Homo sapiens: one gene and its partner. The protein of the gene in region 2 purifies or fractionates together with the protein of the main gene of each other region. This does not show direct contact. Each region holds a gene or a part of one and is shown on either strand. Other genes may lie near its edges.

Region 1 (3,100 bases), on a different chromosome or scaffold from region 2:
AGGTCGCCAACTTGCCCTCAAATGGGTCAGGAAAAAATGTTCTCTTACTGTGCCTGTGACTTCTGCACATTCTGAGAGTCTTTGAACATAAACGTGTGTGCAGAGCTGGCGACATTCTGTTGCTGAGATGGACTCATCTCTGGTTCTGCGCACGAGAGTTTGCCAACTGCAGAAGTAGAATTGTGCAATTCCAATTAATAAGTATTGGCTCTGAGTGTGTTTATTTTTCCAGGAAAGTAACATGTTTTTAAACAGGTAAATACATTAGTGTGGCATCATAATGCTCTATTCCAAGTTAAAAGGGTAAAGGTTATTGTCCCAACATGGAGAAAATTCCAGAATTAAGCATTTAAAATAATAGGACCTACCTGTTGATTTGCCAGAGAAATTCCAACAGTTTCAAAAAACTGTTCAAAGTAAGAGATGATGGCACCAAACACAGCAGGACTTCTCGGCCCTTCAGGTTCCTGTAAGAGATCATGTCGCAGAAGCTCCTTAAAAGCAGTCTTGATGGCAGTGGGCAAACGGAATTCAATGTCAAAAGACAAAGGCTTCAGCAGGTCACTTCAGTCTGGCCTTTCTCCTGGCTTCTATGGAGGGAGGACACAGCTCTGGCATCGGCTACCTCACTGCAGACCATACAACTATAGGTGCATGAGGAATCTCTTGTGCCTCAGTTTACCCATCAGTCATGTGGGTGGTGACTAGCTCATCAGGCTTCGCGGGTGAAGCATGACCGTGGAGTATGGCAGGTGGCGCATGGTAGGTGGAGGCTGAGTGGGCACTGGGCTGGGTTTCTCAGAAAACGGGGAAATCCTGGTACGTGGCTCACATCAGTTACCAAGCACAGAGACCCTTGGGTGACACTAGCCTTAGTTTGCAGGTGCCCCAGAATTGCAAAGCTTGGGAAGGAAAAGCGCAGGACAAAAGCCAGCCTCTTTACTTGTCCCGCCCCTTGCCACAAGAGGCCCCTGTTGCCCTAGAGCTGGGCCAGCCTGGTAGTGCCGGCAGCAGCTGCGGTGAAGGCAGGAGGCCGCGGACGGGCTGAGGAGGAGGAGCTCCCGTGCAGGAGCAGCCTGGCTGCGGGACCTGCCCCAGCCCGGCCTGGCTGCCTTCAGTGCGGGGCAGCCTGTTCCTGCAGCCGGCTGTGACTCAAATGCCCGCCCCCCTCAGAGGCGAGCCCTGCGCGTCTGCAGTATTTGGACCGAAGGCACCCGGCAAGGGCACATGGCACCCTGCCCCACCTGCTGGTGCTCTGAAACCCAACACTGCACGCAGCCAGGGATGGAGACCTCCACAGAGATGCTCAACTAACAGAGCATGTGGCCAGAACCCCCAGGTGTTTCCAGAGGTGGGAGAGGCACAAACAGCCTCGGCTTCCCGGGTCATCAAAGGTCACGGGGCTCCTGACGCAGCGCCTCCCAGGGCCTGGCAGGGGACCCTCAGACGTGCAGGAACCAAAGCCTGCCGCCGCCTTCACGGTCTTTGTCCCACCTGCCAAACACTTGCAGTGACCCACGAGTCCAGGCTCAGACCCCTGGGTGCTTGGTGTGGTCATCACACTGGGGTGCAGATTGCATAACAGTGCCTTGGGGTAAATGGGTCTTTCCTTAAAAAGTTCCCCACAAAAGCTCTCTCTGTGAAAGGGCCATGAATGCAGTGGGGACATGAGATGTGTCCCCTGAGGATCAAGCACACAGAATTTCTCAGCCTCAGGGGCTCCTGAGAGCTTGTTCCCCAGGTGGCCCTGAGGCCCGGGAGGGTCAAGCCCCAGGCTGGGTGCCATCCCGTGTGTCAGCGGCAGACTCGGGCTCCATGAGTTCCTCCACAGAAGCTGCGGGAGGCGAAATCAGCAGAGATGCCACCCAGCCGACATGAGAAAAACCCACCAGAGGACCCGACCCATGCCCCTGGCAGCAGGACCGCAAGGCCACCTGTTCGTTGAGCTACCTTCAGGGACGCCCTGAGCTGTCCATTCCCGTGGTGTGCAAGGCCCAGGATGGCATCAACCACCCTGGGTGTGTCAAAATCATCTGCCAAGGCCGCCTTCACGGCCCTCTTGGTGCTGGAGAGCCTGAGGGAAGAGGAGAGAACAGTCACAGCAGAGGGAGCTCCACTCTCCCCAGGCGGCCCCCACACCAGTCCTTCCCCAGGGAGAGACGCTGGGGGCTCTAATCTGGGGACTTTCTCTAGGTCATATTCCCAAAGACTTGAGTTCCTGAGTAGCAGAAAATTATGTAACATCAACTGCAAACTGTCATGTTACCCCAAGAAAAAGTCCCAGAGCAGAGGTCACCTGTGACACTTAAAATACAAGACACACGTGGGCATTTTCATGATGGTTTTAAAAATCAATAGATATTGAGGGGAGTGGCAAGGAAGACTCGGTGGGGGAGAGACGGCACGGCTGACCACTCACAAAGAGAGGCTGGGGAGGCCCAGCCCGGGGCTCCCGGATCTCAGCCTCCCGTGGCCACTGGCTGCCTACCCTGCTGAAGTGGCAGGGGTGGGTTATCACCAAGACCATCCGGAAGACTCTGCATGCCGGGATGAATGTGCAGCGCTGCCCAGGACACCCGTGGGTGGGGAGTGGAGGCGATGCTGTGGGCCCAGGCCTGTGTGTTTTATAGATTTTGGCTCCTCACAGTCAGGACTGGGAGGGATGAGCAGCTCCGCTCCTCGCACAGGGAACCCGAGCCCAAAGCCACTCTGAGCAGGGGGCTCAGAGCCCGAGGGCCCCAGGCACACTTCCTGCCAGCGCCGTCTCCCTGGGATGTCTCGGGAGCCCCTGACCCCACACCTCCTGTCCAGCACCCAGTGTCCTGTGGCCTCTGGGGAGCCCCTGACCCCACACCTCCTGTCCAGCTCCCAGTCCCCTGTGGCCTCTGGGGAGCCCCTGACCCCACACCTGCACCTCCTGCCCAGCACCCTGTCTCCTGGGGCCTCTCTGGGCAGTCCCTGACCCCAAACCTCCTGTCCAGCGCCCTGTCTCCTGGGGGCCCCTCTTCCCCTTCAAGAGCCCACCAGCAGCACCCAGCAGGCCACAGGAGGGGTGCCACGCCGGGTGCTAGGCGGGCCTCTTACCTCTCCCACAGCATCG
Region 2 (3,500 bases):
CCTTTTTCTTCAGCTCCCATTGCTATCACATGTTTTACCAGAGGCTTGGACATCAGGAAAGAGAAAGCAGATGTCCTCTGCCCAGGGGGCTGCCCTCTTGAGGAATTCTCTGTGTATGGGAACATAGTATATGCTTCTGTATCGAGCATATGTGGGGCTGCTGTCCACAGGTAAGCCCAAACACACCAGGGTGGGAGAGAAATGCAGACGTGATTATTTCCTTTCCTGCTTTACCCATCTGGATCCCTTTCCTCCCTGCATTCTTTCTTTTGTTGCCATTGTGGCCACAGAAAATGGATATATTTTCACGGTTCTCCTGGATATACTTGAAACACCAAATACACATGGAAAGCTTTCTGACAAAAGGCAAATAGCATTACCTCTTGATGGCTAGATTGCTATGATTCCAAAACATTCCTAATCATGTGATATATTACTGAGTTATTACTATGTGCCACCTATTGTTTTAACTTCCACCACAACTCTACAAGGTAGGTAGAATTTTACTCCAGTTACAGATGAAGAAACTGAACTCAGAGAGTTGTCAAGTATCTTGCCCAAGGTGACTATTGTTAGCAAGTGCCATGCTATCCTGTAGTAGAATAGCCAGTATAATACTTCTAAAAAAATTCAGTCCAAAGGCATGTAGCTAAAGTGAGTATCTTAGGAAAATTGTTTGGTGCTCTGAATTTCTAAGTTGTGGGTAATGGGATATTACAAATGTGTTCTTATCAACACTTAAGAAGTTCAACAGCACAAAACCATTTTTTTCCAGGCAAATTTTGTTCTTGTGTAAGCAAGTTTTTAAAAGGCTAGCAGCAGCTGGGAGTGGTGGCTCACACCTGTAATCCCACCACTTTGGGAGGCTGAGGCGGATGGACCACTTGAGGTCAGGAGTTCGAGACCTAGCCAACATGGTGAAACCCTGTCTCTACTAAAAATACAAAAATTAGCCAGGTATGGTGGTGCATGCCTGTAATCCCAGCTACTTGGGAGGCTGAGGCAGGAGAATCACTTGAATCCTGGAGGTGGAGGTTGCAGTGAGCCGAGATCGCGCCACTGCACTCCATCCTGGGCTACAGAGCGAGACGCCATCAAATAAATAAATAAATAAAGCAGAATCTTTAGATGACTTCCCTGATGAGCTATTTTCTTGATTAATCAAAGCAATAGATACAACATGGCACTATAAGTCAGTGGGATGCCCTGAAAAAGTGTGGATAGCATCTCAGCTGCTATTCTTGTGTTACAGGGGAGTAATCAGCAACTCAGGGGGACCTGTACGAGTCTATAGCCTACCTGGTCGAGAAAACTATTCCTCAGTAGATGCCAATGGCATCCAGTCTCAAATGCTTTCTAGATGGTCTGCTTCTTTCACAGTAACTAGTAGGTATAATTATTGTTCTCATTCTGTAATATTCTCCCACCCCCCAAACGTTTTCTGCTTTTTTTAGCTCAGCCTCTTTAACCTTGATGGAAAAACCTGTGATCAAGACTAAAGCTGACCTATAGAGGTAAACTGTAGGTTAGACTGAGGGGTCAAGTACCCACTGAAGCCAAATTTGGGTGAATAGAAGACAATCTTACTGACAGATGATGGCAATAGAAACTTGAATTATTTGCAGTCAGAATGCCCGGACACTTACCAAGGAACTGAAAAACTACTAAATACATTTTTGATGATCCTTTGAAGATATAATGGATAAGCATTTTGGTTCTCTGAAACTAGCATGCAGCAGGATGTTTGTAACTACAATCACCATTACCCTATTACATTTGTCATTGTAGAGAGCTCTAAATTAGATTCATAATACTTTGGTAAAGAAGGAAAAGGAAAAAAATAAGCTTATTTTTATTTTAACAGAAGGCAAAAGTAGTACACAGGAGGCCACAGGACAAGCAGTGTCCACAGCACATCCACCAACAGGTATGAACTATGAAACCTATCTCCTAGTTGCCCGGCACAGCATTTGGAAGTTATGAATAAACGTGTTGTTGGTAGAAGCTTTTCTTAAAGAAATTTGATATTAAAGAGAAACAAAGCAAATACCTTAAGTTTACTGGTATATTACATATGGAAACATTCATTATGTGTATATTTTAAAGACAGGGTCTCACTCTGTTGCTCAGGCTGGAGTACAGTGGTGCAATCATAGCTCACTGCAGCCTTAACCTCCTAGGCTCAAGCAATCTTCTCACCTTGGCCTCCTGAGTAGGTGGTACTACAGGCACATGCCACCACACCCAGCCAATTTTTTTGATTTTTAATTTTTTTTATTTTTATTTTTTTAGACAGGTCTAGCTATGATGCCCAGGCTGGTTTTGAACTCCTGACCTCAGGCAGTCCTCCCACTTCAGCCTCCCAAAGTTCAGGGATTACAGGCATGAGCCACTGCACCCAGCCTAATAATTCTCTAAAAGTCCTATTTTCTCCCAGATTTGATAAACCACGCCTAAGAACTGGTCAAAGTACCATGAACTTCTAGTTCCATTTGCTTCATTAAATTCCTTTAATTACTGCACTGTCATGTGACTAAAAGGAATGTGTGTCTATTGTAAGAAATAGCCAGGGATCCCCTTTTGTATGACGATGGCAGTTTTAAAGTCAAAGATATTAAGAACATTAGGATTTAATGTTGAGTTCCTGCCTCACCTGTGGGTTTGGGGTATTAAAGTCCTGGATTAGGGCATATCAAATATGTAGGCCTACATACTGATTTGTTTATTTGTTGGGTCATTGCTTTCCCTAGTCCAGAAAATCCTGAGGAAATTAATTTTTTTAAAAAAGTCCTTTCAAGAATGGCACTCTGTTGTTATGAGCTTCTCCCCATGTGGGTTTCTTGCTATGTAACTGTCTTCCTTTTGTTAATGCCAAGTGCATCTTTTATTTCAGGTAAACGACTAAAGAAAACACCCGAGAAGAAAACTGGCAATAAAGGTAAGAATCAAGATCTCCATTTGGGAAGGTAGCATTTTCCCTCCCTCCTCTTGAGACTGCTAATGAGGGGACTGGTTTGGTTGTTCGCAGATTGTAAAGCAGACATTGCATTTCTGATTGATGGAAGCTTTAATATTGGGCAGCGCCGATTTAATTTACAGAAGAATTTTGTTGGAAAAGTGGCTCTAATGTTGGGAATTGGAACAGAAGGACCACATGTGGGCCTTGTTCAAGCCAGGTACCAACCTTGTTAAAATGGGAGATTTAAAAAAAAAATTATTTTGTAATTGACACATAATAATTATATATACTTATGGGGTACATAGTGATGTTTTCATACATACAATGTATAGTGGTCAAATCAGAGTAATTAGCATATCCATCACCTCAAACATTGATCATTTCTTTGTGTTGGATACATTCAAAATCAAATGAGGCCGGGTGCAGTGGCTCACGCCTGTAATTCCAGCACTTTGGAGGCCAAGTGGGTGTGTGGATCACCTGAGGTCAGGAGTTCAAAACCAGTCTGGCCAACATGTGAAACACCGTCTCTACTAAAAAT

What was found. Proteins that work in one complex are often made in the same cells at the same time.
Region 1: the proteins of COCH (region 2) and CARS2 purify together in Homo sapiens (affinity purification with mass spectrometry; one large-scale study listed by BioGRID and IntAct). This does not show direct contact.

What each region holds. Positions count from the first base shown.
Region 1 is NC_000013.11:110,644,017-110,647,116, forward strand, and holds part of CARS2 (probable cysteine--tRNA ligase, mitochondrial), read right to left. Parts: coding exon 3,085-3,100; intron 2,616-3,084; coding exon of another isoform or gene 2,345-2,615; exon of another isoform or gene 2,081-2,344; intron 2,075-2,080; coding exon 1,951-2,074; intron 591-1,950; coding exon of another isoform or gene 567-590; exon of another isoform or gene 468-566; coding exon 369-467; intron 167-368; exon of another isoform or gene 49-166; intron 1-48. UniProt on the Homo sapiens protein: Mitochondrial cysteine-specific aminoacyl-tRNA synthetase that catalyzes the ATP-dependent ligation of cysteine to tRNA(Cys). In addition to its role as an aminoacyl-tRNA synthetase, has also cysteine persulfide synthase activity.
Region 2 is NC_000014.9:30,877,559-30,881,058, forward strand, and holds part of COCH (cochlin isoform b precursor), read left to right. Parts: intron 1-13; coding exon 14-170; intron 171-1,252; coding exon 1,253-1,386; intron 1,387-1,864; coding exon 1,865-1,927; intron 1,928-2,893; coding exon 2,894-2,938; intron 2,939-3,028; coding exon 3,029-3,176; intron 3,177-3,500. UniProt on the Homo sapiens protein: Plays a role in the control of cell shape and motility in the trabecular meshwork.